Linked DNA regions of Homo sapiens: all the other regions are linked to region 1. Evidence: fine-mapped QTL for protein levels in blood plasma. A gene starts in region 1. Each other region holds a variant in brackets. All regions are shown on one strand. Distances are between the middles of the regions. Region 1 holds the start of MDK (midkine). Region 2 overlaps AGBL2 (AGBL carboxypeptidase 2). Region 3 overlaps CSTPP1 (centriolar satellite-associated tubulin polyglutamylase complex regulator 1). Region 4 overlaps CSTPP1 (centriolar satellite-associated tubulin polyglutamylase complex regulator 1). Region 5 has its middle 13 kb from the start of NUP160. Region 6 has its middle 14 kb from the start of LINC02710. Region 7 overlaps PTPRJ (protein tyrosine phosphatase receptor type J).

What was found. PIP is the posterior inclusion probability: the model's chance that the variant is causal. Protein levels are from antibody-based Olink assays in UK Biobank. Linkage for the fine-mapping came from a reference panel and not from the study's own genotypes, which makes the PIPs less certain.
Region 2: its variant is fine-mapped to the plasma level of the MDK protein (UK Biobank, PIP above 0.99).
Region 3: its variant is fine-mapped to the plasma level of the MDK protein (UK Biobank, PIP above 0.99).
Region 4: its variant is fine-mapped to the plasma level of the MDK protein (UK Biobank, PIP above 0.99).
Region 5: its variant is fine-mapped to the plasma level of the MDK protein (UK Biobank, PIP 0.92).
Region 6: its variant is fine-mapped to the plasma level of the MDK protein (UK Biobank, PIP above 0.99).
Region 7: its variant is fine-mapped to the plasma level of the MDK protein (UK Biobank, PIP above 0.99).

The regions. Positions count from the first base shown.
Region 1 is chr11:46,381,307-46,385,578 of GRCh38, forward strand. MDK (midkine) reads left to right here and starts at 363. Exons shown (of 5, transcript NM_002391.6): 1 at 363-452; 2 at 751-827; 3 at 988-1,155; 4 at 1,281-1,442; 5 at 2,163-2,495. The coding sequence starts at 752. The coding sequence ends at 2,188. It overlaps CHRM4 (cholinergic receptor muscarinic 4), which reads right to left. Exons shown (of 2, transcript NM_000741.5): 2 at 2,483-4,272. The coding sequence ends at 3,812. RefSeq lists silencers at 1-67, 498-607, 1,028-1,077, 1,053-1,347.
Region 2 is chr11:47,702,361-47,706,673 of GRCh38, forward strand. It overlaps AGBL2 (AGBL carboxypeptidase 2), which reads right to left. Exons shown (of 19, transcript NM_024783.4): 5 at 3,504-3,557; 6 at 3,161-3,274; 7 at 2,183-2,368. Among named protein-coding and RNA genes, the nearest start is that of AGBL2, 11 kb to the right of the region's middle. The variant T/A (reference allele first, on the strand shown) is at 2,362.
Region 3 is chr11:47,054,257-47,058,569 of GRCh38, forward strand. All of the region lies in intron 3 of CSTPP1 (centriolar satellite-associated tubulin polyglutamylase complex regulator 1), which reads left to right. Among named protein-coding and RNA genes, the nearest start is that of CSTPP1, 120 kb to the left of the region's middle. RefSeq lists an enhancer at 2,999-3,548. The variant T/G (reference allele first, on the strand shown) is at 2,591.
Region 4 is chr11:47,128,897-47,133,209 of GRCh38, forward strand. The region is part of intron 3 of CSTPP1 (centriolar satellite-associated tubulin polyglutamylase complex regulator 1); the gene reads left to right. LOC124902671 (a long non-coding RNA gene) reads right to left here. Exons shown (of 2, transcript XR_007062666.1): 2 at 1-1,962. Among named protein-coding and RNA genes, the nearest start is that of ARFGAP2, 46 kb to the right of the region's middle. The variant C/T (reference allele first, on the strand shown) is at 2,310.
Region 5 is chr11:47,859,341-47,863,653 of GRCh38, forward strand. No RefSeq gene overlaps it. Among named protein-coding and RNA genes, the nearest start is that of NUP160, 13 kb to the left of the region's middle. RefSeq lists enhancers at 2,385-2,454, 3,840-3,889. The variant A/G (reference allele first, on the strand shown) is at 1,874.
Region 6 is chr11:46,203,370-46,207,682 of GRCh38, forward strand. No RefSeq gene overlaps it. Among named protein-coding and RNA genes, the nearest start is that of LINC02710, 14 kb to the right of the region's middle. The variant A/G (reference allele first, on the strand shown) is at 1,838.
Region 7 is chr11:48,022,329-48,026,641 of GRCh38, forward strand. All of the region lies in intron 1 of PTPRJ (protein tyrosine phosphatase receptor type J), which reads left to right. Among named protein-coding and RNA genes, the nearest start is that of PTPRJ, 44 kb to the left of the region's middle. The variant G/C (reference allele first, on the strand shown) is at 2,624.

The sequences.
Region 1 (4,272 bases):
TGAGAACGGCCCGGGCCTTGGCGTACGGCAGGGGACGACCTGGGATGGGGGCAGCGGGCGGCGGCGCAGGGAGTGGGCCGGGGGCCGGTGTGCGCGGGCGGGACGGGGCCCGGGGTCGGGAGACCACCGCTCGGAAGATGGGGCCGGGAGAGGCCGCCGTCGCAGCGCAGAGGGCACCGGCGGGGAGACGCGAGGACGCGGGGCCGGGAACACGGACGCCGGAGTAGAAGCGCGGGGGGCGCGGGCTGGAGCGGGGGCGGGGACGCCGGGGTCGGGGGCGGTGCGGGTTTGAGGGGAGGGGGCGGGGCGGGTCCTTCCCTGGGGGGGTGGGGAGAGGGGGCGGGGGCCCATGTGACCGGCTCAGACCGGTTCTGGAGACAAAAGGGGCCGCGGCGGCCGGAGCGGGACGGGCCCGGCGCGGGAGGGAGCGAAGCAGCGCGGGCAGCGAGCGAGTGAGCGCGCGGCGGCCCCTGGTCCGCCCGGCCGCGGCCGATCTAGGGGCTGGGGGCTGGAGGCGGGGGTGGGGGTCTGAGCTGCGTCCTGGGCTCGAGGCGTCCCCCGGGGAGTCGCCTCTTAGCGGTGCGTCCGGGCTAGCGGCGAGGGGCCGCCCCAAGTCTTCCCACCGCCGCCACCTTAGCAGCCCGACTTGGGGCCTGGAAAGTGGAGCACGCGGAGGTGGGAGGGCCCTGCACGCGGCCCCCGGTGGGGAAGGGGACGGGCCAGGGATTCAGACTCGGGCTCTCCCCTCAGGATGCAGCACCGAGGCTTCCTCCTCCTCACCCTCCTCGCCCTGCTGGCGCTCACCTCCGCGGTCGCCAAAAAGAAAGGTGATGGGGGATGATCGAAGGAGGGCTGGGGACGGGCAGGCGAGGCCCCTCCACTTCTGGGCTGGGCCGCCTGGGTTCCTAGCCTGGAACCCCAGGAAGGCGGCTCCCGAGGGAGTCTCCCCGTGCCCCAGTCCTGAACTCTGTTCCTCGCGCGTTGTAGATAAGGTGAAGAAGGGCGGCCCGGGGAGCGAGTGCGCTGAGTGGGCCTGGGGGCCCTGCACCCCCAGCAGCAAGGATTGCGGCGTGGGTTTCCGCGAGGGCACCTGCGGGGCCCAGACCCAGCGCATCCGGTGCAGGGTGCCCTGCAACTGGAAGAAGGAGTTTGGAGGTGAGGCGGGGCGCAGTCAGAGGGCAGGAGACGGGGGGCACAGCCTCGCCGAAGCCTGGGCGGACCCTTGGCGGAGGGCGGGGCCGCGGGCCGCGCAGCGCTGACCTGGGCCGCTCTCTCGCCAGCCGACTGCAAGTACAAGTTTGAGAACTGGGGTGCGTGTGATGGGGGCACAGGCACCAAAGTCCGCCAAGGCACCCTGAAGAAGGCGCGCTACAATGCTCAGTGCCAGGAGACCATCCGCGTCACCAAGCCCTGCACCCCCAAGACCAAAGCAAAGGCCAAAGGTCAGCGAAAGGAGAAGGGGGTGGGGCTGTCGCGGGGGGCTGCCCCCCCCCCCCCCCGCCTGTGAGGGGACAATTCCAAGTTAAACCTTAAGTTTTGAGTCCTGGCCAGTGGCTTCCTGACATCGCCTCACTTGGCTTCCCTGCCTGGAAAAGTCTGAAGATGGGCACTACAAGAGAGGCCGCAGGTGATGCTGGGGACATAAATCCTCCCTGGCCCAAATAGGGACCAACTCAAACTACTCCATTGGAGCATCTGGCTTAGGACCCAGGGAGAGTGTCCTGGAACGGCTTGCCTTTGTCAGCTCTCCAGCCACGGGCAGCATTTGGTCAGCTCTGCCCTTTCTAGTGTTGGGAGGAGGTCAAGGCCCACCCTGGGCCTCTCAGCTCACTCGTGACTCAGCCCAGCGAGGCCAGCAGGGCAGGGGTGAATCTGCCCGCTTCTCAGGTGAGGAGGCTGAGGATGCCCAGGGCTGCTGTGACCAGGACTAGGACTGGAAACTTGAAGGTTTTCTGATCCCAAGTGGAAATAGGAAGCTGGGGATGTCCCATGTCCACATCACAATGGCTGCCCCATCCCCTGCTTCCGAGTCAGCTGATTGGAAACCACTAGGGGGCAGAATCTTCTCCTTCCCTGATGCCCGGGTGTTTGTGGAGCCGGCGGTCTGCAATGGGTCAGCCTAACTGCTGATATGGTATTAATATTTCTTTCTTGTTTTACAGCCAAGAAAGGGAAGGGAAAGGACTAGACGCCAAGCCTGGATGCCAAGGAGCCCCTGGTGTCACATGGGGCCTGGCCCACGCCCTCCCTCTCCCAGGCCCGAGATGTGACCCACCAGTGCCTTCTGTCTGCTCGTTAGCTTTAATCAATCATGCCCTGCCTTGTCCCTCTCACTCCCCAGCCCCACCCCTAAGTGCCCAAAGTGGGGAGGGACAAGGGATTCTGGGAAGCTTGAGCCTCCCCCAAAGCAATGTGAGTCCCAGAGCCCGCTTTTGTTCTTCCCCACAATTCCATTACTAAGAAACACATCAAATAAACTGACTTTTTCCCCCCAATAAAAGCTCTTCTTTTTTAATATATAAAAGCCCCTTCCCAAGGAGTTTGCTGTGGAAATGTGTTTGGGAGTGGGAAGGTGGGGAGAAAGACCAGGCTGTAGGGACTGGTGGGTTTCAGGGGGCTTGGTGGTGGGTGCTCTCCAGAGCTCATGGAAAAAGCAGAACAATTACAAACATTTCTTCCAGGGCCCCTGAAAGGGTGCTCCCCATCAAGTCACCTAAGCCTTTCGGTCCTCATCTCCCTCAGGGACCAGGGCTGGGGAAGGGAACCTGGCTGACTCACTGGAACCACCACACCCATCTCAGCCTCACCCAGTCAAAGGTCTTTTGATACAACCCACAGCCAATCAGGAAGGTTCTACCCATGGGGGAGAGCAGATGCGAGGGCTGCGTGCCTACCTCACTGCCCACCTCCCCCCTTCCCACTGTCATGGAAACCCGAGTGAGCCACCAGGTTGACCCCTTTCCTCTTGCCTGTGTGACCCAGGCCTCCACCCTGCAGAAGCCAGGGGGTGAGAGGTTTGAAGAGGGCAGATGGGAATGCCATCCACCACAGCCTCACCCTGACTCGATGTGTGACCTGGGACAGCCTTCTAAGGCCGGGGCTGCAGGGGGCTGTCTTCTGAATACGTGGACCACTCACGGCTCAGCCTGGGATCGCAGAAGGCCAGACCTCAGTTCCTGAGACAGAACCTCTGACCTCCCAGCTGCCCCATCTTAATGTGACAAGGGCAGTGCTGCTGGGGCGGGGGGGACCTGGCCTCCATCATACCCACCCAGAACCTGGCTAAGTAGCTGCAGCCAGAGGAGATTTCTGCCCCTGGAGTGGGATTTGGGGAGAGGGGGCTGAGCCTACATGCGGGGTGCAAGGGGGCAGAAAGCACCGATTACAGCAGAATGGGGGACCCCACCCTTCTACTCCCTTCCCAAGCCTCCTTTTCCAAGCACTGGCCCCTTTGTTCTTCCTGAGGGGGCCCTGGGCTTCGGCCCCCATCCAGATGTCCATTCTTCCAGCACTGCTGATGGTTGGTCACAGTGGGGCAGGTGCCCACCCAGGCCAGTGCCCCGCAGCTCGCTGAAGCAGGGCCACAGAGGTGGGCCAGGCAGCCCCAGTTCAGACACTCCCTGGGGTGAGCCTCCTCAGCCTGAGCAGAGATCTGGTCTCTGAATGCAGCCACAGAGCCTCTTCTGAACTTCCTCCTCAGCAAACGTGAACGCAGAATGGTGCCTGCAACTCTTCCCCACAGCAAGTGAGCCGTGTGGTCCCCCCAGCACACGCACGCAACACCAGCACCTCCTAGGGCACTCCTGCCTGCCTACCTGGCAGTGCCGATGTTCCGATACTGGCACAGCAGCAGGTGCCGGAAGGTCTTTTTAAAGGTGGCGTTGCACAGAGCATAGCAGGCAGGGTTGATGGTGCTGTTGACGTAGCAGAGCCAGTAGCCAATGGACCACACCGTGTCAGGGATGCAGCTCTGGCAGAAGGTGTTCACCAGGACCATGACGTTGTAGGGCGTCCAGGTGAGGATGAAGGCTAGCAGAATGGCAAAGATCGTTCGTGTCACTTTGCGCTCCCGGGCCGCCATCTGCCGCTTCTTGCGCACCTGGTTGCGAGCGATGCTGGCGAACTTGCGGGCCACGTTGGCCGCAGGGCGCATGCCAGCCGGCGTGGCAGGCACAATCTCAATGGCTGTCACACACTCATTGCCTGTCTGCTTCGTCACAATCTGGATCTTGGACCATCTGGAGGCTGGGTTGAGGGCCCGCGGCTGCAGGG
Region 2 (4,313 bases), 1.3 Mb after region 1:
TTTTGAAAACTTATGCTGATCTCTAAGCTGGGTTAGGTATGCTCAGAGGGACCAAGCACTATGCAATTGTCTGTTAAAATGTTTAACTTCCCCACTAGTTCATGAACTCTGGGTCCATGAACTCTCCACTTTGCTCATCACTACTATCTCTAGCACCAAGCACTGTACTTAGCATATAACAACACATATGAACGAATATTATAAAGCAGGGAGACAGAAAATGAGGAACATCCAGCTGGGTGCGGTGGCTCATGGCTGTAATCCCAGCACTTTGGGAGGCCGAGGCGGGTGGATCATGAGGTCAGGAGTTCGAGACCAGCCTGACCAAGATGGTGAAACCCCGTCTGTACTAAAAATACAAAAATTAGCTGGGTGCGGTGGTGGGTGCCTGTAATCCCAGCTACTCCAGAGGCTGAGGCAGGAGAATCGCTTGAACCCGGGAGGCGGAGGTTGCAGTGAGCCGAGATGGAGCCATTGCACTCTAGCCTGGGTGATAGAGCAAGACTCCGTCTCAGAAAAAAAAAAGGAACATCCAGTTGTTTATTCAGTAGTATAAAGCAGAGACATACGTGATGTTTGCTAGACTTGTTCTGGTAATTAGAGAAGTCCCCACTTTCTAATGCAACCCAATTCCATAAATGCTTAATCCATAAAATGGATGCAGAAGATTGTACTTGCTCCAAGAGCTCACAGGTATGACCCATAATGTCATAAAAAAGTCTCCACCATTCCGACAAGAAAACTCCAATAAACTCAAAATATAAAATTAAATTAATTTTATATTTAATTAAAAACTGTAAAAACTATGTCGTGGTATATGTAGTCTTCAATTATACCAAGACTGGTAAAAATACCACACAACCAAACACATTAATACTGAGACAGGGTAGCACCCCTGTATTTTTAGATAAGATGCTATGCCCTCTCTCCAAAAAATGAAAAAGAAAAGAAAAAAACCACTGAAACAGGTTAATCTAGAAAACAGATTTCAGTATTTATATATTTTGGCTTCTAGGAAGGTATCCTCTCATTCTGAAAAACTCAGAAGCATTCTAGTTTACACATTAGTGTAACTTGATTTTGGTGAGTTTATATCAGTTTCTCACAGTTTAATTTTTTCCAGGGTGAGTTAATAAATGTTGACTCTAGGCTGAGTGCACTGGCTTATGCCTGTAATCCCAGCACTTTGGGAGGCCAAGGCGGGTGGATCACTTAGCATCAGGAGTTTGAGACCAGCCTGGCCAACATGGAGGAACGCTGACTCTAATAAAAATAAAAAACTAGCCGGGTGTGGTGGCTCACATCTGTAATCCCAGCACTTTGGGAGGCCGAGGCGGGTGGATCACCTGAGGTTGGGGAGTTCGAGACCAGACTGACCAACATGGAGAAACCCCGTTTCTACTAAAAATACAAAATTAGCCGGGTGTGGTGGCACATGCCTGTAATCCCAGCTACTCAGGGGGCTGAGGCAGGAGAATCATTTGAACCTGCGAGGCGGAGGTTGCAGTGAGCCGAGCTCATGCCATTGCACTCCAGCCTGGGCAACAAGAGCGAAAGTCAGTCTCAAAAAAAAAAAAAAACAAAAAAAAAACTAGCCAGGCGTGGTGGCCAGGCATCTGTAATCCCAGCTACTTGGGGGGCTTAGGCAGGAGAATCACTTGAACCTGGGAGGTGGGGGTTGCCATGAGTCGAGATTGCGCCACTGCACTCCAGCCTGAGTGACAGAGTGAGACTCTGTCTCAGTAAATAAATAAATAAATAAATGTTGACTCTGTCCTGCCTTATACTTAAGCACGTAGGACTTAACATTCTCAGATCTTGTAATAAAGTCAGGCAGAAGGCCGGGCTTGGTGGCTTATGCCTGTAATCCCAGCACTTTGGGAGGCCAAGGTGGGCGGATCACGAGGTCAGGAGTTCGAGACTAGCTTTGCCCACATGATGAAACCCCGTCTCTACTTAAAAATGCAAAATTAGCTGGGCGTGGTGGTGTGCGCCTGTAATCCCAGCTACTCAGTAGGAGGCTGAGGGAGGAGAATCCCTTGAACCTGGGAGACAGAGGTTGCAGTGAGCTGAGATTGCGCCATTGCACTCCAGCCTGGGAAATAGAGTGAGACTTCGTCTCAAAAAAAAAAAAAAAAAAGTCAGGCAGAATAGCAAGACCACTGTGAGTAAGTCATATTACCAATATGATGGATGTTTTCCTTGATGACCTCACATTCAATTGGCCATCTTGGAGCCTGCAGTGGCCTCTTGGTAGACAAAATGGAAAAGAGCTCTTGGGGTTCTCGAAGACGTGGGTTTACTTCATCCAACTCATCATAAAGAAGCTGTCTGCTCCTAAGATGTGGTAAACTCAGCATA[T/A]GTGAATCTGCCAAAGGGAAAGAGAGTAAGTGAACATCTTCCTTTTCCTCCTTGGGAACTTTACTGCTCATCTATAACAATGAAACTATTTTAAGCATTATATTAAAATATTAGCACAGATATGTGATTCTCTGACATGTTTCTCCTTCAAGAAGATTTAGTCCAGAATAACAGGTTCAAAATTATAAAACGTTAAAATTCTGCACAGTCTATTAAATGTTTAAATATAAAGCTTTAGGGTAAATTAAAAACCTTTTAAAAATTAAATTTAATGGTCCAAGACATTTCAACAGTGGGTTACAATGAATAAGAAGTTACTTAATATGTTTTATTATTTTTGTTTAGCTAGTGGCAAGAGAGGAAATTTCAATATATCCATTAGCATTTTAGAAAAAATTACATAAAACTTTATTCTTTTTTTCTTCTTTTTTATCAACTATAGTGAAATAATCTATAAATAAAATTTCAGGGCCATAATATAACCATACAAAGGAAAGACAGACATAAAACAAAGAAGATGGAAAGAGGAAGGGGAGAGAAGGCATGAGATGGGGCAGAAGAGAGGAAGAGCTCTTGGGAAAGAAAGAATGAGAAAAAAGGGAAGAAAAGAAAGGCTTTCAGGAAGATAAAAAAGAAAGGAGGGGCCAGGCGTGGTGGCTCAAGCCTGTAATCCCAGAACTTTGGGAGGCTGAGGCGGGCTGATCATCTGAGTTCAGGAGTTCGAGACCAGCCTGGCCAACGTGGTGAAATCCTGTCTCTACTAAAAACATAAAAATTAGCTGGGCGTGGTGGCACATGCCTGTAATCCCAGCTACTCGGAAAGCTGAGGCAGGAGAATCCTTGAATCTGGGAGGTGGAGGTTGCAGTGAGCTGAGGCCGCGCCACTGCATCCAGCCCAGGCAAGAGTGAAAGTCTGTGTCAAAAAAAAAAAAAAAAGAAAAAGAAAAAGAAGAAAGGGAATGAGGAAAAAAGAAAAAAATGGAAATGAAAGGGGGAACTAAAGGCTGAGGGTCCTTCAGTGCTCATCAGGCATGAATCCCATTCCTGTCTGGTAATTCTTAGGTCTGGTGGGAACAGCAGGTGATGAAGACATAGTCCAAAAAAGGAGCTTGAATCTTCTGGTCTGGAAGGACATGAAATACCTCTGTTGATGGCTTCTATCTGTCTGTGCACAGCTGAAGATAAACTGATAGGCCCTAGAAAGAGGAAGAGGAGGCACCCTTGGTGTCAGGGATCGTTGTCTTCTTTTCTTCTGTCTGCTATCCCCATCCCTTCTCATTTCCTATGCTCACTCTGGACCCCTGCATTTCTATCTAAATCTTTCTCCCATACTTTAATGGGGGAAATAAAAGGAAATAAACATTTGAAAAGATAGTAAAGCTGCACAATGTCACTCATAACTAAAGAAATATAAAGCAGTTTGGGCACGGTAGCTCACACATGTAATCCTAGCACTTTGGGAGGCCAAGGCGGGCGGATTACCTGAGGTTGGGAGTTCAAGACCAGCCTGGCCGGCTGGGCGCGGTGGCTCATGCCTGTAATCCCAGCACTTTGGGAGGCTGAGGTGGGCGGATCACGAGGTCAGGAGATCGAGACCATCCTGGCTAACATGGTGAAATCCTGTCTCTACTAAAAATACAAAAGATTAGCCCGGCGTGGTGGCAGGCGCCTGTAGCTCCAGCTACTCGAGAGGCTGAGGCAGGAGAATGCCGTGAACCCGGGAGGCGGAGCTTGCGGTGAGCCTAGATTGCGCCACTGCACTCCAGCCTGGGGCACAGAGCAAGACTCCGTCTCAAAAAAAAAATAAATAAAAATAAAAATAAATAATTGTGGAATATGACAGGTGCCCTTATAAAGAATGGGGTAAAGGCAGGAGAGGTGGCGTGTGCCTATAGTCCCACCTAGTCCAGAGGCTGCAGGGTAGGGGTTGGGTTGTGGTCACTTGAGCCCAG
Region 3 (4,313 bases), 670 kb after region 1:
TCCAAGATCGCGCTACTGCACTCCAGCCTGGGTGACAGAGCAATACTCCGTCTCAAAAAAAAAAAAAAAAAAAAAAAGACCCTGTTGCCCAGGCTGGAGTGCAGTGGCATGATCATATGATCATAGTTCACTATAACCTTGAGCTTCCAGGCTCAAGTGATCTTCCTAACTCAGCCTCCCAACTAGCTAGGACTACAGGTACATGCCTACCATACCTAGCTAATTTTAAATTTTTTTGTAGAGACGGGGTTTTGCTGTGTGGCCCAGGCTGGTCTCAAACTCCTGGGCTCAAGGCCTCAGCCTCCCAAAGCACTGGGATTACAGATGTGAGCCACCATGCCCCATCTTATTTGAAGGCTTTTAGATAGGAGAGTGGTGTGGTGATATCTGAGCTCTAGAAAGATCATTCAAAAGGCAGTGTAGAAGATGGCCTAGACTAGAGACAAGGAACATAGAAGTCTGGTAGTAGTTGAGTGAGAGATTAGACCCAACACTAAGGCAGTATGGAGACAGAAGGGGCACTTTCAGAGATAGAATCCATAGGATTTGGTGATTGGATTTGGCATTAAGATGAGAGAGAAGACCGTGGTAATTTCCAAGTTTTTGGCTTGGGCCACTGGGTAAGAATATTTTTTAAAAGCCTTCAAGTAATAGCCACAGAATAAATTTCAATTTTTTTTTTTTTTTTTTTTTTTTTTTTTGGAGACAGGGTTTTACTCTGTCACCCAGGCAGGAATACAATGACACAATCTCAGCTCACTGCAGCCTCGACCTTCCAAGCTCAGGTGATCCTCCCACCTCAAGTAGCTGGGAATATATTTGTGCACTACCATGTGTGGCTAATTTTTCTATTTTTTATAGAGTTGGGGTTTCGCTATGTTATCCAGGCTGGTCTCAAACTCCTGGGCTCAAGCCACTCGTCCACCTCAGCCTCCCAAAGTGCTGGGGTTATAGGCGTGGGCTACCATGCCTGGTCTCCTACTTTCATATTATGTGTTTTCATAAATACCTTTAAGACAATTTCTTGCTTGCTTGCTTTTCTTTTTCTTTCTTCTTTCTTGCCTTCCTTCCTTCGTTCCTTCCTTCCTTCCCCTCCCTCCCTCCCCTCCCTTCCTTCCTTCCCCTCCCCTCCCCACTGAGGTTATAGTCAGTGAATAGGTAGTCTCCCTGCTTTTGAATTTATGAGATTCCCCACCATGCTCTAATCAATGCTACTGCTACGAAACTGTAACTTTTCTAAATAGCTACTAAATATATAGCTATTAAACTTTTATATGTAGTTACTAAATCTTTTCTAAAACTTTTCCACCCAATATCTTATTAGTTCCACTGCCCTAAGAAATAGGTAAAGTGGGTATTATTGTGCCCATTTTGTAAATAATGAAATTGTGTAACTTGCAGAAAGATTTCATGGTGAATTAGTAGCAAAGCTAGAAATTGAACCCAGATTTACTAATATGCTGATGTGCTATTTCTACTATTTTTACTTCAATCATTGCCTCTTTGACATATAACTCTGGAGATCATGCATCTCCATTACAGTATTATGAAAGAAGTACTTAGTGTACTGAGGATCGTATCATTTCCCTTACAGAATAAATGCACTAATAGGCAAAAACCAATGTGGACTCAATTTTAAGTTAAGTAATTCAGAAAAACTATTCCATTGGTCTCTATGTAAACAAAACTGGGAACTGTGAGTATATAGGTAAAGCTCGTGCTATGTTATCAGAGGTTATCTTTCCCAGTCCCTCACTCAGTCAGCAAATATTTGTTTTAGACCACCTAGTACAGTCGTCTCTCAGTCTATGCAGGGATTGGTTCCAGGACCCCTGTTTATACCAAAATCCACGCATAATCAAGGCCTACATTAGTCCTGTGGAACTCTCATATGTGAAAAGTCAATCTTCCGTATACAGGGCTTCATATCCCTAGAATAGTGTATTTTCGATCCATATTTGGTTGAAAAAAATCCACCTAAAAGTGTGGACCTGCACAGCTGAAACCTGTGTTGTTCAAGGGTCAGCTGCATGTTGAAGAATATGGCTAGAGCTAGTTTCTGTGATAGAACATATGGAGATAACTATGGAAAACAGTCTTCAGATAGCCTTAACTTTTTTCCTGATATAGAAGTGGGGCCTCTTCAAGAATGTATTTACTATCACGAGGGATTCATATAGCATTTGGACTCTTAGCAGATGTGGGTTTCTTTATCTTTCTAATAGCAGCTGCCAGTGACTCATCCAGCTGCTAAGAATAAGCAGCTCCAAATTCCCCCAGTTTCTCCTTGTGCCATAAACAAGACCTAGATTTTATGCTGGCTGTTTATTGTTATCCTTCTTAATCAGACAGCCTCAGATTTCTTAGACTAAATGCAACATCTGTGTCTAGGTGTTCCTAAAATAATTGGTTAAGTAGCTTTAATGTATTCTCAGCTTTTTCTAGGAAACTCCAGAACATCTTTCTAAACCAGAATGTGTCAATCTCCAATTTTAATCCGGAATTAGTGAAAACTCTTGGCGGCAAGGTTCTAAAGGAAAGGATTTATTAAGCCCCATTTTATCAATTATAATGCCAGGTACCTACCTAC[T/G]CAGTGGAACTCCTACTGCATTATTCTTCTGCAGATAACTTCCTTAGAATGTCATGTGCATACTTTAGCATTATCAAGTGGAAAGTAACTCTTCTGGGAGGTAGCAAAACAAGAGCATAACATATCTAAAAATGAAGCCACCTGTAGAACTCTAAGGACCTGGTCCCTTTTGACAAAAAATATTTTATTCCAGTTTTTAGCAAGTACAGGATATGATATCTTTTCTGCATGACTGAGTACTGATGCTAATTATCTTGTCCAAATTTTAGATAATCTCATGAAGACTGTAACAAACCTCTTGGTATCTAAGCAACTTTAGACTCTTGGAAGCAAAAGTTATATTAGAATTTTAAAAGCCTTTAAAATTACACTTCTCACTTTGCTAATTTTTTCTGTATAGGAATATTAATCTGAATTTTCTAAGTCTGGCAAAGATTGATATTCTCTTAATGTAAATCTTTACTTCTGTTTAGGGATATCGGCTCAAAAGTGCCTTCTCCAAGTTTATTTTCAATTAGAATTTAATTTTCAATATATACATATATACACATACATACATATATATATTTCATTTGATAAAATAATGATAGGTACTTCCTCTTCTATCTGTGAAGAAGTATCTACTAAGGGAATTGCCCTCTTGCCACTAACAATGAGAAAATCAGCATATCTGAAACAACAGTTTTCAGACATTGGGCAATAGGCAGTGGGGGCTGTGGATTCTGAGAGCCAGTTTCCAAGCAACAGTATAGGGAGAGAGATTGTCAAAGAGCTTAGCAGTGTTATTGAGTTGAGGAGGCAGAGACTGGGGTTTAGGGAGGCTGGAGCAGCCAGTATTTACAGGTCAGAATCCAAGAGAGGAAGAAGTTGTTCAGTGAGCTCCAGAATCTTTGGCTACAAATTCTGCATATGTGTGGGCTGGAAAAAGAACCACCAGAAAACAGTGGGCCAAACAATTTCTGGAGTATACAAGGGGCTAAGGATAATTCAAACTTCTACCAGCCATAGGGAAGAGACCTCAAAACACACCGGGCACTGGGTAGAGTTCTCAACAGTTTAAAAGCAAAAAGGATTAAATCGATCCGCAAGTAATTTAATGCTATATAAGAACAAAATTCAATAATCTTTAAAGGAATTTAACAAAATCCAGCATTCAGCAATGCAAAATTCACAAAGTCTGACATCCAATTCAAAATTACCAGACAGGCCAGGCATGGTGGCTCATGCCTACAATCCCAGGACTTTGGGAGGCCAAGGCAAGTGGATCACTTGAGCCCAGGAGTTCATGACCAGCTTGGGCAACAGAGCAAAACCCTGTCTCTACAAAAAATTTAAAAAATTAGCCAGGTGTGACACCTGTGGTCCCAGCTACTCTAATGGCTGAGGCGGGAGGATTGCTTGAGCCTGGAAAGTTGAGGCTGCAGTGAGCTGTGATCGCACCACTGCACTCAAGCCTGGGCAATAGAGTAAGACCCTGTCTCAAAAACAAAACAAAACAAAATAAAATTACCAGACATTAAAAGAAGCAGGAAAATACAGCCCATAACCAGGAGAAAAATTAATCAATAGAAACACAGATCCAGAAATGACAGAGATGATGGAATTAACTAACAAGGACCTTAAAATAGTTATTTTAAATCATATAAATATGCTTAAGTATGTAAAGAAAACATGAATATGATTAGGAGATTAGTGGAAGATATTAAAAAGATCCAAATGGAAT
Region 4 (4,313 bases), 750 kb after region 1:
ATAAAAACCTTCATTCTGGCTTTAAACACCCCCCAGAAATAAATTTAAAATTCTGCCTCTTTTTCAAAGGTTGAGTGAGGTATATCACCATTGGGAGGGTGTGATGTTTTCTCTTGCCTTTAGTCACCATTAGGAGGGATTAAGGTTTATTCTCCAGTTTAGCTCTTGTGCCTGTTTAACCATTTCTGTTCAATTAAGAACAGGAATGGGTTGCAGGAGTTTGTAACAACACCTGCTTCTTGGAGGAGAATTATAACTTGGCCCTGAGTTGTCCGTTTCAAAGGGCCCACCCTGTCCTCCTGTTTCCAAAGAAAAACTGGAAGTGGTAACACCTGGTGGAGCTGCATGAGCACGTGAGTGGTGGTGCAAATTCTAGGCTGGAGTCACTTCTTTGATGGGCTGCCGGAGCCTTTGAGAGCTTATGGTGCCAAGATCCTGCTCTACATTCTAGTGTCCAAAACTGCCTTCCATTTCCTCAATAATGGGTAGGAAACTGTGTCCATGCCAGAGTAGCTAGCCCCGTTGCTACTAGAGAGGCTTTCTTTTCTCCTAGCACTGGTGCCTCCTTCCACAATGCATACGGCTGCCCACCCTCGCCATATGCAGCCTGTGTTTCATATCCTCACACTTTCTAAGACAGGACCTCCCCCAGAACAAAGCCTTGCCTTGGTCCTCCAATCCCTAATGGCCCCATCGTGATGAACAGACCCCCAAGGGTTCGACACAGTATAGGGGATTCTTATCAGACCAGGCCTGTGGTTTAAGCCACCAGTGGTGGTTCAGGATGGCCATGGTTAGCCTAAAAACCTGATCAGATTGCCATGGTATGTCCTACATGACCCTGGGTAGAATGTTGAGATCCTGGTTAGAAATGCCTGCATTTCTTTAAATCTTTACCTGCTGTATATAAACAGTTCCTGGAGAGTTGTTTTTGTTCATTTTAAACGTTGCCATAAAATTGTTACTGTGTCTGATTTAATACTTTGCCTAGAACAAAGATACTGCCAAATAGAAATAGACTAAATACATTTCTAGCTTGGTGTCTGGCTTAGTCATAATAAAATATAAAACTAAAGGGGCAGCCGGGTGCGGTGGCTCACGCCTATAATCCCAGCACTTTGGGAGGCCGAGGCGGGCGGACCACGAGGTCAAGAGATGGAGACCATCCTGGCCAACATGGTGAAACCCCATCTCTACTAAAAGTACAAAAATTAGCCAGGCATGGTGGCAGACACCTGTAGTCCCAGGTACTCGGGAGGCTGAGGTAGGAGACTCGCTTGAACTCGGGAGGCAGCGTTTGCAGTGAGCCGAGATAGCGCCACTGCTCTTCAGCCTGGCGACAGAGCAAGACTCTGTCTCAAAAAAAAAAAAACCAAAAAAAAACTAAAGGGGCTTTCTGCCCCCATTGGAACACACTGAAGATGCTCTGGGGAGTAATGAGCTGGCAAAGGGTAGTGTTCATAATGGCCCAAATACTTTACCCCACAGGTGTCATTCGAGGCCATTGCCTCTTATTCCTTTTGTAAGGTCATTTCCCATTCAGTCAACTAATTATCATTTCCCTCCATTTATAATATAAAACAACAGTGCTGCCAGAGGAGATAAAATTGAATAACACAGCCTTCTCTTCTTCTGGGGCTTTGCTTGACAGGAACATGGCCCTAGTAGGGTAGCAATCTTTCTGTGACATGTGATACCAACTGCTACATGGGGAGTGAAGTCGTCAGATGTCTTGCCTCCTTCTTCCCTTCCCCCACACTGTCCCTCACTCCCTTCCCCCTCCTCACAGAGTAGCACTGAGAAGTATTTACTCAGCTGTGGCCTGGTAACAAAGCCTTGGTGCCCCAGGGATTGGAAGGGGTGGTGTGGTCATGCCCCGAACTATCCATGTCCTTCCGAGCATCTCTTGGCAGAGCAGCCTGGCTGAGGATGAGTGTCATTTAGAGTGAGCCTTCACAACCCCTGCATAAAAGAACATAAAAACAATTGCAGCTGAAAATTGGAGAGTCCACACATGGGCTGTGGTATTCTCTGGCCTCTGTGGTAGTACTATTGAGATCATGCAGCCAACAAACTAGAGGCTGTTCAGTCCTCTGGGACTCCCATGGCTTGTAGCATTTCATTATCTTTAGCTCTTGTCCAGCACTAGCTCACTCAACCAACATATAGGCACTCACACAAATGAATTTAGACTGAGCCCCATTTCATCCCCCATAAATTTAGAGCTAAAAGTCTTTGACTTCAGGCTTTAGGGAAGGTTTTCTCTGAAGGAATGAATATATGGCCCCACTTCCTTCCATCTGGCACTC[C/T]TCCATGGGTATTCTTTAGTGACACCACTGTGATCCTGGCAAAGGTACCATTTCCCAGGAAGAGGAGAGGTATCCGATCTACAGCTATATTCCACCACAGTTCTGAGCAAATGTGGACACGCATGGTGGTCTGCAAGGAGGATGTAGAAATGACTAAGCTGCTCCCACAGAGCTTCAGAAGCAGGACTTGCCACAGCAAGAAGGCAGACCAGATGTCAAAAAGACATCCTTTTCCTACAAATGAGAATGAGTTAGCCCTTGAATATATTGGGAATCAATAATTTCTGACTAATTTTCTTAGCTAAAGTAAATTCATCTAACACTCTCTAGGATTAGAGTGGATATAACCAACAGAAGAATATTTTGAGTCAGGGCAGTGCTTATCTTGAAAGCAGTAGTATTCATGCTAGAGTTGTAACAGCAATAAAGTGAATTTCTGTGAAGTGAACCCTAGGCTTCCTTTGGTTTTCATGGAAAAATCAGTGACATGGCCTGGCGCAGTAGCTCATGCCTGTAATCCCAGCACTTTGGGAGGCTGAGGCGGGTGGATCACCTGAGGTCAGGAGTTCGAGACCAGCCTGGCCAACATGGTGAAACCTCACCTCTACTAAAAATACAAAAATTAGCCTGGCGTAGTGATGCATGTCTGTAATCCCAGCTACTCGGGAGGCTGAGGCAGGAGAATCGCTTGAACCCAGTAAGCAGAGGTTGCCATGAGCCGAGATTGTGCCACTGCACTCCAGCCTGGGTGACAGAGTGAGACTCTGTTAAAAAAAAAAAAGGAAAATCAGTGATACATTCTTATGAAAAGAAATATTCAAGCTGATTGAACTGAGCACTTGGTGCAAAGGCCAACAAGCCCATGAAGTGTAGTACACTGGTCATGGTTTATCATGTTTACTGACAGTTATAGTACCTAGCACGTAGGGGATTTTCCTTTTTTCACACTTTACAACTCCTGGTTTCTCCTCATACCCCTGTAATTTTGCAGAAATGCCTCCTGTGCCTGGAGACCCCCTATCTTTGTGTTCACACAGTAACCAGAACTTTTTCCCTATGAATTTTTATTTGGGTCACTGTGTGAGGCATGTTTTTATTTATTCATTCCTTCAACAGGTGTTTACTGCAATGCACCAGGCATTGTGCTGATTGCTTTAGCTAAGTTCAAAGATTCCTTAATTTCAGGACTTCAAGTTTTAATCAGTTAATAATTATAAAATAATGCTACCACTTATTGAGCACTTTGCTAACTTTTTTCAGAAAAGTGTATATGTTACCTCTTTTGATCTTTTACAACAATTCCATTAGGTAGGTACTGTAGTTCTTACACTTTTAAGACAAGGAAACCAAGGTTCAGGGAAGTTGTACAGCTTGTCTAAGTCATGCTGGTGGCAAGTAGTGGAGCCAGGTTTTTGAAGCCAGGTCATCTGATTGCAAAGTCAGAGTTCTGCACTAATACAACTGCCCTGCCCAACTACCCTGTGCTGTTTAAAGTGGCCTGCCTGAAGGGTACCTGTATGTTTAACTTAGATAGAAAATCTGTCAGTCACCTGGTGTGAATAATCCTAACATCAGAAGTCCTTCACAAACCAGCTGGATCCCACCTGCTAGGGTGGAACTTGCAGGACCTTCAGAGCCTGTGCTAGGCCTAGGTCTGAATCTCAGCCCTCTTCCTAGCTGTTTCCTTGAGAAAATGATTACACCTCACTGAGCCCTAGTTTCTTTATTTCTAAAATAATAATAGCAAGTACTAACAGATGGCCCTTACGATGGGTCAGACACTGTTCTAAGCACTTTACATTAACTCATAACAACTCTGCAATGTTCATACTGTCATTTCATAGATGGGGAAACTGAGGCATGGAGAGCTTAAAAGTCAAGTAACTTGAAGTCAGTGGCAAAGCTAGGATTTGGACCCGAACAATCTAACTCCAAAGTCCATGCTATTAACCACAATGCTATGCTGTGCTGCCTCTGGAGAAGATAGGATCAAGGGTGTAAAAC
Region 5 (4,313 bases), 1.5 Mb after region 1:
CTTGTAATCCCAGCACTTTGGGAGGCCAAGGCGGGTGGATCATGAGGTCAGGAGTTCAAGACCAGCCTGACCAACATGGTGAAACCCAGTCTCTACTAAAAATACAAAAATTAGCCAGGTGTAGTGGTGTGTGCCTGTAATCCCAGCTACTTAGTAAGCTGAGTCAGGAGAATTGCTTGAACCCGGGAGGCGGAGGTTGCAATGAGCTGAGATCATGCCACTGCACTCCAGCCTGGGCGACAGAGTGAGACTCTGTCTCAAAAAAAAAAAAAAAAAAGAAAGGAGTACCTCAAAAAGAAAAAGTGATTTGCCCAGGCATTTAGTCAGGCAATTCTATTAGTTGTGTCTGAATCCATTCTTTAAACATTTTAAAATGCTTTTAGCTCCTAGCAACCATATCCAAAACAAAGGAAGCAAACCCTTGTATTTACCTACAGGAAATAGAAAGATGCAGGTCTGGCTGTTGATCACTGATTCCACCATGAGCCAGAAAATTTTACTTCATTTGGCCAAACCCCGGGACAGTTCAGTAGGGATTGCTGTTGACACAAATAGGGGTTCCAGTTCCCACTGTTAACTAACCACTTGGCCTTGGCAAGTCACTTCATTTCTCTGGGCCTCAGTTTCCTCATCTGTAAAATGAGGCCTCTGGGCTTCATGATCTCTTAGGTTTCCTGGTTCACAACTAGGAAAATGCTAAGATAAAGGTATAGGTATAAACATCTTTAAAAAGTCAGAAAAACATCTATAACATTTCAAAAGAACAATCTCTAGTGGATAAAAATATGTGTACAGTACAGTTGACTCAGCAATTTCACTCAGAGTTTTATCCTAAGGAAACAATCACAGATATGCTTCAAGATACAAGGATTGACGGGCGTGGTGGCTCATGCCTATAATCCCAGCACTTTGGGAGGCCAAGGCGGGTGGATCACCTGAGGTCAGGAGTTCGAGACTAGGCTGGCCAACATGGTGAAACCCTGTCTCTACTAAAAATACAAAAAAATTAGCCGGGTGTGGTGGCACGTGCCTGTGATCCCAGCTGCTCAGGAGGCTGAGGCAGGAGAATCGCTTAAACCTGGGAGGCGGAGGTTGCAATGAGCTGAAATCGCGCCACTACACTCCAGCCTGGGCAACAGAGCGAGACTCAAAAACAAACAAAAAACAAGGATGACTGTCACAGTGTTTGCTTTTTTTCCCAAAATAAACATTTAATTTTAGAATAGGTTTAGATTTACAAAGAAATTGTAAAGGTAGTACAGAGATTTCCCGTATACTCCATCTATTCTCTCTCCCCAGCTCCCCTATTGTTAACAGTTTATGTTAGTATTGTCAGAGGCGTTCGAAACAGAGCGACTCCATTTTGAGTGAGGGCTGGAAAAATGAGGCCAGGACTTGCTGAGCTACATTCTCAGAAAGTTAGGCATTCCTAACCTCTAGATGTTTACGGCTAAGGGGACAAATTAATAATGCTTACTGAACAGACCCAGACTTGGGAGTGTCCAGATATCCCGATATCTGGAGAACAAAGGCATTCCTAATTTTGCTTTAAAGATAATAATATTGATTTTTGAAAAATATAGTAATTAAAAAAACTTAATCCTTTATCACAAACCCTTGTAGCAGAGCACATCTCCCCATATATACAAGCTTTGTACCTAGGGTGGATGCGTTCCTCCTCTTACTTTTGGGAACATCCTACTCTGTCTATGGAGTAGCTGTCCTTTCACCACTTTACTTTCCTAATACACTTGTTTTTGCTTTGCACTGCGGACTCACCCTGAAGTCTTTCTTGTGTGAGATCCAAGAACCCTCTCTTGGGGTCTGGATCGGGACCCCTTTCCTATCTGTAACAGTATGAAACATTGGTCAC[A/G]ACTAATGAACCAATACATATATATATATATTTTTGAGACAGAGTCTCGCTCTGTCACCCAGGCTGGAGTGCAGTGGCCTGATCTCGGCTCAGTGCAATCTCCACCTCCCTGATTCAAGCAATTCTCCTGCCTCAGTCTCCAGAATAGCTGGGATTACAGATGCCTGCCACCATGCCTGGCTAGTTTTTGTATTTTTAGTAGAGATGGGGTTTCACCATTTTGGCCAGGCTGGTCTTGAATTCTTGACCTCAAGTGATCTGCCCACCTCAGCTTCCCAAGGTGCTGGGATTACAGGCATGAGCCACCATGCCCAAACTAATAAACCAATATTGATACAGTATTATTAACTAAAATCCATACTTTTTTTCCCCCAATTTTAAGAGACAAGGTCTCATTCTGTCGCTCAGACTGGAGTGCAGTGGCATGATCATAGCTCACTGCAGCCTCAATCTCCCAGGCTCAAGTGATCCTCCCGCCTCAGCCTCCTGGGTAGCTGGGACTACAGGCACATGCCACCATGCCTGGCTAATTTTTAAATGTTTTGTAGAGATGGAATCTCTCTATGTTGCCCAAGCTAGTCAGGAATTCCCCTTGACAGTTTTGAGAAGTACTGAACAAGTATTTTGTAGAATGTCTTTTGTCTGATTTTTCTCTTAAAAAATCATGATTAGATTAGGGTTATGAGAGGAAGACCACAGAGGTAAAGTGCCATTCTTGTCCCAGCACAGCAGCAGGGGTACATGCTGTCTGCGTGACTTTTCGCTGATTATGTTAAGCTTAGTCACTTAGCTGAGGTAGTGTTTGCCAGATTTCACTGAGCTTTTTTTTTTTTGAGGCGGAGTCTCACTCAGTCTGTCACCCAGGCTGGAGTGCAGTGGTGCGATCTCAGCTCACTGCAACCTCTGCCTCCTGGGTTCCAGCGATTCTTCTGCCTCAACGTCCTGAGTAGCTGGGATTAAAGGTGTGTGCCACCACACCTGGCTAATTTTTGTATTTTTAGTAGAGACAGGGTTTCACCATGTTGGCCAGGCTGGTCTCGAACTCCTGACCTTGTGATCCGCCTGCCTCGGCCTCCCAAAGTGCTGGGATTACAGGTTTGAGCCACGGCGCCCAGCCTCACTGTGCTATTTTTTTAAAATAAAAAAAGTTCTCAAGCAAACTATAGGTCAATAGAGGACTTTAAACTCCATGGGGGCAAGATCTTTGCCTGCTTTGCTCACCACTGTGTATCCAGTGCTGAGCACATTTCTGACAAATAGTAGGTGTTAATTAGAATTTGTTGAAAGAGGGTCAGGCATGGTGGCTCACGCCTGTAATCCCAGCACTTTAAGAGGCCGAGGCGGGTGGATCACCTGAGGTTAAGAGTTTGAGACCAGTTGGCCAACATGGTGAAACCCCGTCTCTACTAAAAGTACAAAAATTAGCTGGGCGTGGTGGTGCATGCCTGTAATCCCAGCTACTTGGGAGGCTGAGGCAGGAGAATCGCTTGAACCTAGGAGGCAGAAGTTGCAGTGAGTCGAGATCATGCCACTACACTCCAGCATGGGCCACAGAGCGAGACTCGTCTCAAAAAAAAATAAAAGAATTTGTTGAATGAAAAAGTGGGAAGATAAATAAATTAACTTCTCCAATATGATGGAATACTGGCAATTATCATAAACATTTGATGATGTGAAAAAATGTAAAGTATTTATTGCTCAGTGAACAAAACAATTAGAAAACAATTTCTATACATTCAGTTTTCTATGAAGTGTGTTTGTGTGTGCAGAAAAATAACTAGAAGAATGTTGTCAACATGTTAACAGTGGTCGTTGGTTATTGCTGGGTGGGAAGGGAATGGGGATTTTTATTTTTTTCTTTGTTCCATATTTTTAAAAATTGTCACAATAAAAAGGAATTACTTTTTGAATCAGAAAAAGGAATAAAAATGGAGAAAAGTTTTAAACTTCAAAAAGATTCCCGAGCAAGGAAAACAGATATTCCAATACAATACTCAGCAACCACGTTATTTAGCCATGTATTAGTATCTGTGAAGGAACTGAAATCAGTGGTGCAGTGCAGAGAGGGTGTTGTCCTCAAAGTTCTGCAGTTTCTAGGAAACAGGGTACACTAGGCACCATCTGTTTCTGATTTAGAGCATTAGAGTTACAAGATCATAAGCCGTATCTTTGTTACTCTCATAACAAATTGTTTAAAGTTAAAAAAAAAGAGTAAAGAGCAAAACCAAATGCACAGGATGCCAGAGTGAATGGCATTATTGTATCATTTGCTTTCTCTTCCCAGGGGCTTTGCATTTTAAAAACACATGTTGTGGTTTTTCTGTGATTATCTTTCCACTTCCTGTGTTGTATCTCCTTACTGTAAATATCCTTTTGTATAGTCATGCTTTTTTCCCCTTGCGTCTTACATGTGTGTCTTTCTTAATATTCACTTTCTCCA
Region 6 (4,313 bases), 180 kb before region 1:
AGGGAGCAATGAGTTCTACGGAAGGTGTTTCTGTTTTGGTTTGTGTTTTGTTTGAAGATGGTAAGTATTACAGCATACCTGTGTGCTGAAAGGTAAAGCGCCATAGAGAGGGAGACGTCAGTGATTCATGAGAGAGATCATTTCATCAAAGTCCTTGAATAGGTGAGGGCAAACGGGATTCAGGACCCCAGGGGAGGGATGGGCATTGTACACGCATAAGGATGGTTTGCAATTTGCAATACGAGGGAGGGCAGGGCCTGCACATACAGCGGTTGGAAGTGGGTAAGTTTAGCAGTGGGTAATGAGCATTCTGAGGGCCTCTATTTTCTCCGTGAATAGGAAGATGAGATCATCAGCTGAGAACCAGGCAAGAGAAGGATATTAGAGTTAAAGAAAGAGAAGGTATAAAACGGCTTGAAGAGAGGCAGAGTGCCTGAGATACTGAAGTAGGATTGTTGGGCAATGCAAAAACAGCCACTTATTGGCAGACTTCAGTATAAAATGAGGCGTGTCTGGGCAGCTGTGGGTATTTTCTTCAAGCCATGTTCCAGTGCCCAGATGGAGGCACGAAAAGTTAAGTTCTCCCTTGAGTTGAAGCAGGGTTGGGGTGTGGCAGATGAGTGCAGCAGGGCAAGAGTATTATAACGGTGTTACGGAGCAATTACAGAGCGATGAGGACACTGGGGCATAATGAGGAAATGAAGGGCCTGGGTCATGGGTGGTGAAGGACAGTGAAAAAGCGGTGGGGGGGTCAGTGGACTGAAGACCCCAACAGGGGTAGGAAATTGCTGAAATGGGAGTTCTAAGACAACTGAGTAAGGAATACCTGTGTCCACAGTCTAACAGGATGATTGAAAGGGAAACTTGAGCAGCGCTGTGGTTATGATGAGGTTTGTGTGGGGCTCTATGGCTAAGGTGGAGTGGAGGAGGCATCATGGCATGGAGGCATCAAGAATGGAGGCAAGGTGACTAGGTGCGGTGGCTCATATCTGGAATCCCAGCACTTTCGGAGGCTGAGGTGGGTGGATCATCAGGTCATGAGATCGAGACCAGCCTGGCCAACACAGTGAAAACCCGTCTCCACTAAAAATACAAAAATTAGCTGGGCGTGGTGGCGCACACCTGTAATCCCAGCTACTCAGGAGGCTGAGGCAGGAGAATCACTTGAACCCAGGAGGCAGAGGTTGCAGTGAGGCAAGATCGTGCCATTGCACTTCAGCCTGGACAACATAGTGAGACTCTGTCCCAAAAAGGAAAAAAAAAGAATGGAGGCAAGATGATGCGTGGCCATGTATGTGGATCTTAAATTCACCATGACAGTGACAGCAGGAGAGAAAGTCAGTGAGCCAGGTGGCCAAATTATCAATAAACACGTGAGCAGGCAGGTAAGACCACACAATAGACAATTTGACGACAGGTGCTCCCATTTTTCATGTTTATATGATTATTTGGCTAATGTTGATTTCACCTACTACACACATCACCCACTCTACACATCAGTAAGGAAGGGGCATGGCTGTTTGTGCTCACCACGTGATCCCTAGCATCTAGCTTAGCACATAATAGATACTTATTTAAAACTTCTTGAACAAATGCCTGAATACTGTTCTCTGGACTTGGAGAAAGAGAGAAGAGGGGAAGCGGGGATCCAATAATTGGCCCTTTTCTCTTGCCATTGAAGTCCTCAGCAGAGTCCCAATTTGCAGATACTTCTGTCAATGGTCATTCAACTACCGTTCACAAAATACCTCTTAAGTGCCAGGTCCTGTGCTATGCGCTTCAAAGAGAAGTAAGACTTGGTTGCTTTTGGAGATCTCTGAGTGTATCCAGGCAGACT[A/G]ATGAATAAATAACTTCAATACAATGTGAATAGAGCAATGACAGAGGTATGAGCAAAATGCTCCTAGACCGCAGAATCTGACTGCCTAGGGGACAAAGGAAAACTGTGGAGACAGGTAATGTCTGGAGAATGAGGAGGGTCAGCTACCAAGACAGGTGGATGTCAGGCAAGGAACCAGTCTCTACAAAAGCATCAAGGATGGGGAAAGCTTGGCAAATTAAGAGGTCTGATGAGGCTAGAAATTAAGACAAAAATGTCATCTGGCCTTTAGATTTATGTCAATTGGTTTGCAACAAGGATGTCTAGACAATTCAATGGAAAAAGAATGGTCTTTTTTTTAAATGGTGCTTGGACAACTGGATACCACACGGAAAAGGATGAAGTTGGACCCCTACTTCAAACCGTCTACAAAAATTAACTCAAAATGGATCAAAGACATAAATGTAAAAGCTAAAACTACAAAAACTCTTAGAAGAAAACATAAGCGTAAATCTTCATGAGCTTGAATTAGGCAATGGTTTATTACATATGACACCAAAAGCACAAACTAAAATGAAAAAACAGATAAATTGAACTTCATCAAATGTAAACACTTGTGCTTCAAAGGAGACCATCAAAAAAGGGAGAAGAGGCCAGGAGCAGTGGCTCACACCTGTAATCCCAGCACTTTGGCAGGCCGAGGCGGGCAGATCACGAGGTCAGGAGATCTAGACCATCCTGGCTAACATGATGAAATCCTGTCTCTACTAAAAATACAAAAAAAAAAAAAAAAAAAAATTAGCCGGGCGTGGTGGCAGGTGCCTGTAGTTCCAGCTACTTCGGAGGCTGAGGCAGGAAAATGGCATGAACCCGGGAGGTGGAGCTTGCAGTGAGCCGAGATCGCGCCACTGCACTCCAGCCTGGGCAACAGAGTGAGACTCCATCTCAAAAAAAAAAATAAATAAAGTGAGAAGAAAACCCACAGAATGGGAGAAAATATTTGCAAATCATATATCTGATAAAGGACTAGTGTCCAGAATTTATAAAGAACATTTACAACTCAACAATAAAAAGATAAACTTTTTTTTTTTTTCAGATGGAGTCTCACCCTGTTGCCCAGATTGGAGTGCAATGGCACAATCTCGGCTCACTGCAACCTCTGCCTCCTGGGTTCAAATGATTCTCCTGCCTCAGCCTCCCAAGAAGCTGGGATTACAGGTGCTCGCCACCACGCCCAGCTAATTTTTGTATTTTTAGTAGAGATGGGGTTTCACCATGTTGGCCAGGCTGGTCTCCAACTCCTGACCTCGTGATCCACCTGCCTCGGCCTCCCAAAGTGCTGGGATTACAGGTGTGAGCCACCACACCCGGCCCAGATAAACTATTTTTTAAATAGGCTAAGGATTTAAATATTTTTTTCTCCAAAGAAGATATACCAATGACCAGTAAACAAATGAAAAGATGCCCAAGATCATTAGTCAGTAGGGAAATGAAAATCATAACTACAGTGAGATGCCACTTCATACCCACTAGGATGGCTAGAATTAAAAAAAAAAATAGACATTGGCCAGGCACGGTGGCTCACGCCTGTAATCCCAACACTTTCGGAGGCCAAGGCAGGTGGATCACGAGGTCAGGAGATCGAGACCATCCTGGCTAACATGGTGAAACTAAAAATACAAAAAATTAGCCAGGCGTGGTGGCGGGCGCCTGTAATCCCAGCTGCTCAGGAGGCCGAGGCAGAAGAATAGCTTGAACCCGGGGGCAGAGGTTGCAGTGAGCTGAGATCGCGTCACTGCACTCCAGCCTGGGTGACAGAGCGAGACTCTGTCTCAAAAATAAATAAATACGGGAGGCTGAGGCAGGAGAGTCGCTTGAACCTGGGAGGCAGAGGTTGCAGTGAGCCGAGATCGTGCCACTGCACTCCAGCCCGGGCGACAGTGCAAGACTCAGTCTCAAAAATAAATAAATAAAATTTTAAAAAATAAAATAAAAATAAACTTCTTATCTAATTATAATAATTGATGGTAGAAATTTTGGAAAATATAGAAAATTGCAAAGAAGAAAATTAAAATCATCCGTAATCCTTCTAATTAAAATGTCTACTGGCATTTTAGTATATTTTTCTATGAGCAAACATCATTTTTAATACCTTGTAAGAGGCTATCCAATATCATAAATCAAGGATCCCCAACTGGTCTGTGACCTGTTAGGAACTGGGTTGCACAGCAGGAGGCAAGCAGTGGGCAGGCAAGCAAGGGAAGCTTTATCTGTATTTACAGCCACTCCTAGCTCGCATCACCGCCTGAGCTCTGCCTCCTGTCAAATCAGTAGCAGCATTAGATTCTCATAGGAGTGCGAACCCTACTGTGAACTGCACATTCGAGGGATGTAGGTTGCATGCTCCTTATAAGAATCTAATGCCTGATGATCTGAGTTGGAGTTGAAGCAGTGATGCTAGCACTGGGAGCATCTGTAAATACAGATGAACATTAGC
Region 7 (4,313 bases), 1.6 Mb after region 1:
TGGTGCATGCCTGTAATCCCAGTTACTCAGGAGGCTGAGGCAGGAGAATCGCTTGAACCTGGGAGGCAGAGGTTGCAGCGAGCCGAGATCGTGCCATTGCATTCCAGCCTGAGTAACACGAGCAAAACTCCATCTCAAGAAAAAAAAAAAAAATTAAGATGATGAAGATGCAGCGTGGGGCCATGAGAAGAGTCCTGGTCTGGTGAGTTTGGAAACCTGGCTTCTGGCCTGTTTCTAACACTGTATGTCCTTGGGCCAGACCCTTTCCCCTGGGGTGCTGATTTCACACCTGTAAAATGAAGAAGTTTGACTTGCACAGTGCTTTTCTTAGACTGTGGTAAGGGGTGGATGTGGGGGTAGTGCCAAGACCAAGTGAAAGAGGCTTCTGGACCTCCATCCTTGCTTCAGCCAGAGCAGCGTGGGTTCATTTCATTTTTGGATTTTGGTTTGTGGGAAGAAAGGGTTCTCTTGCCGGTGTGTGTGTTTCTGATAAACAAAGAAGTGTGGAAGTGGCTGAATGAGATGACCCAAGGACTCTTTCTGGGAAGATGCAGGAGGAAGTAGGTGAGCTGAGGGGAAGCTGGTGGGGATAGGCCTGGTGGGGCCTGGGGAGAAGGATTTGAAGGCTCAAGTCACACGGTGCAGGATGGGACTCAATATAGGGTGGGATAGGGCGGTGGGTAAAAGCCGTTACAATTTTGTCCAAATGGTATGGGCTGATTTACTTATTAGGGAGGTACAAATGGCTTCGTGTTATAAAGTGTCAAGATCCTTATTTGGATAAGGCAACCAGAGTGTAGACGAGAGAGTAAGAGTAAGAAAACAAGGAGAAAAATGAGTGTCTTAAGGATGTAGAAATTTAGTTTGCTGGAAGTCTCTGCAGCCTGAACAAAACAGCTGTTAGGTTTGCCAGAACTTAAACCAGAGGGTGCCTGCCAGTGGTTCATATTCTTGCTACCTCTTCCTCCTCTTGTCTTGTTTTTCCTTTCCATTCTAATAATCACGATGAGTTTCCCTGACATGCACGCCCCTTCATTCATTTGTATGATCACTTAGAGATGAGGAGCTGCCTTGCCAGGTAGAAAAACCATTCTCAGGATGAATCTTTGGCTTTCTGAATCAGAGTTTTCTTTGGGTTTTAGAACTTCATTCTTATTAAAGTGGGAATTTACCGGCCGGGTGCGGTGGCTCATGCCTGTAATCCCAGCACTTTGGGAGGCCAAGGCAGGCCAATCGTGAGGTCAGGAGTTCGAGACCACCCTAGCCAATATGGTGAAACCCCGTCTCTACTAAAAATACAAAAATTAGCTGGGTGTGGTGGTGCGCGCCTGTAGTCCCAGCTACTTGTGAGGCTGAGGTAGGAGAATCACTTGAACCTGGAAGGCAAAGATTGCAGTGAGCCGAGATCACACCATTGTACTCCAGCCTAGGCGACAGAGTGAGACTCGGACTCAAAAATAAATAAATAAATAAATAAATAAATAAATAAATAAATAAATTGGAATTTAATATCTCTTATCATTTCTTCAATTCCAGTTTTTATTAGATCCACAACTTTTTTGGTCAAAACCAGAATTTTGATTATGTGTGCCATCCTAGGCTACCTCACCATCCAAAAATCCTCTTGGAAAACCCCACGCTTATCAGGAAAAGGAGATGGAAGTGAAAAAATAAAAATATATATAAAAAAAGGAAAACCTAGTGTTAGCACCCCTTATCCAGCAGGCCCCCCACCTGGACCCCCACCTGTATTCACATTCCTCCCACACTTACAGTCAGTGGCTTCATTAATCTCTAAGGTTCCATGTTCTGCTCCCCAAATAGACTGTTTGCTCATTGAAGACAGGCACCACACTTACATTTTTTTTCTTTCTTTCTTTTTGTTTTGAGATGGAGTCTCACTCTGACGACCAGGCTGGAGTGCAATGGCGTGATCTTTGCTTATTTCAACCTCCGCCTCCTGTGTTCAAGGAATTCTCCTGTCTCAGCCTCCCGAGTAGCTGGGACTACAGACGCATGCCACCACAGCCGGCTAATTTTTGTATTTTTACTACAGGCAGGGTTTCACCATATTGGTCGGGCTGGTCTCGAACTCCTGACCTCAAGTGATCCACCTGCCTTGCCCTTCCAAAGTGCTGGGATTACAGGCGTGAGCCACTGTGCCTGGTCTTATATTTCTTTTCTATTTTTCTACCCTGATCAACCTTTTCTTTTCTATCTCTCTCACTGTTTCTACGATCAAAGTAGTGGAGTCAGTTTCCTTGCATCTGTCCCAAGCAGCCGTTGCTAATGGGAATGAGTGTCAGGCACTGTACATCAGCCCTGTTTTGAAACTCTGTGCCTGCTGCCTCATTGACTAGCTGGAGAGTGTTGAACATTTGGTTGTAGAATGTATGTGGATTGCTGAGTTTCACGCATGAGCTGTGTTGTCATTTCATTCATTCTGAGTGGCATCTGCGCCAGGGCTACCTGGAGTTTTTCCAGCTCCCCAGGCCTAGCAAAGGCAGGGATCCTGTCTCATTCAGCTGCATTTCTTGAGCTGTGCTTAGAAGGCCTGCCACACAGTAGGGAATCAGGAACAGTCGCGTTTACAGAGCTCTCGGGTGATAGAAGGGAAAGTAAA[G/C]GTATATTAAATTTCTTCTAGGCTTGCTGCCTAATCCCCTAAGGGGCCTTCTCATTTCTTTCAGCAGTGCCATCTGGCAGGCCTGAGAGTATATGGGAATAAGTGGGGTGCTGGATCTTGTGGGCAGGCTATGGGATCTGGGAAAGGGGTTAGCACCTGGGCCTGGAGGGACCTGGAATCTAGGGGGGGCATACATCTAAGCTAAATGTGGCTGTGGCTTGCAAACTCAGAGGCCTTTCGGGCAGCCTGGTGAAATGATAAATGGGCAGTTGCTGTTTATTCTCAGTCCTAGAGATTAAAAAGAGGTGCCCCCATTGGAAACTGGAGGTTACATGTTCTACCCAAAGGGAGCAGCTGCCAGTCGGCTTCTTGCGATGTGAAAGTACAGCCCCAGAAAACCCAGGTTAAGTGATGTCCCCTAATTTTTAAAAGTTGGCAACCAATTCAACTATAAAATCATGCCTGCTGGCCTCTGAGCAGTAGGCAGGGCTGGTGTATGCCGGAGGCCACCAGGGGACATAACACCTGCCATAGGGTCAGAATAGGTGGGTGTTAGTCACCATCCAGATGGTCAGATACCGGAATTGCCACAGAAATGAACATGACATGCAGAGCAGGCAGAGCAGGTGCCAAAAGTTGGTATCAAGGAGGCGAAGGTCAAGTTCTTTGCCCACCAGAAAGCCTTCTGTTCCTTGTCTCCTTCCCTTCCTGCACCTCCAAGGACTCTCCACTGCTCCCTACAGCTTAAGTCCAAATTTCCCTGTCTGGCATTCAAGGTCTTCCATACCTTCCTTACAAGTGCCCTTTAGGCGCTCTAAATGGCGCGTCAGCTCCTATGTGTGGCCTCAGCTTAGCAGTCCAGTGTTCCCTCCCCCTGAATCCCTCCAGACTGCCCAGGCTGCATCTGCCTCAGACAGCCGGGTGTTCCCAAGACATGCTGCACTTTCTTCCCTCTCTGATTTGCTCATGCTGCTCCTCTTCCTGGAATGCTCATCCCCCCAATTATGGAAATCCCACTCCCCACTCATCCTTCAAAAGGCTCTGGACAAAAGGCACATTCTCCCTGAAGTCGGCTACCCTCCCGACTCTGTAAATTTGGAATAAATCACATCTTTCAGCTTCTATAGCACTCACCCTGCATCTCCACCACAGCCCTTATGACATAGCTGTTGAGAAAGGTCTGTCTTCCTTGGTAGATGATGAGGTCATTGTGGAAGGTTCGAGTCTTACTTACTGTGTCCACAGCATTTGGCTCAGGGCAACAGTCAACAGAGGCTTAGTGACTTAGACACTTGATGGTAGAGTATGGAAAACTGATTCTCATGAGGAAGGTGCTTAAGGTCTTTGGTAAGCCTGGGAAAGGGGCAGTTGGCTGGAACAGAGGGTGTGAGAGGAGCAGGTAAAGCTGGATCCAGCTCTCTTTCAGCCCAAGGCAATACCTAAAACCCTATCTCTGACTTGGAAAGGCAGTATCCTGCTGTCTTCCTGCTGTGGCCATGAGCCTCACTGGGGCTTGACTTGAATGTTAGGACTTTTTTTTTTTTTTTGAGACGGAGTTTCGCTCTTATTGCCCAGGCTGGAGTGCAATGGTGCGATCTTGGCTCACCGCAACCTCTGCCTCCCAAGTAGCTGGGATTACAGGCGCCCGCCACCATGCCCAGCTAATTTTTGTATTTTTAGTAGACATAGG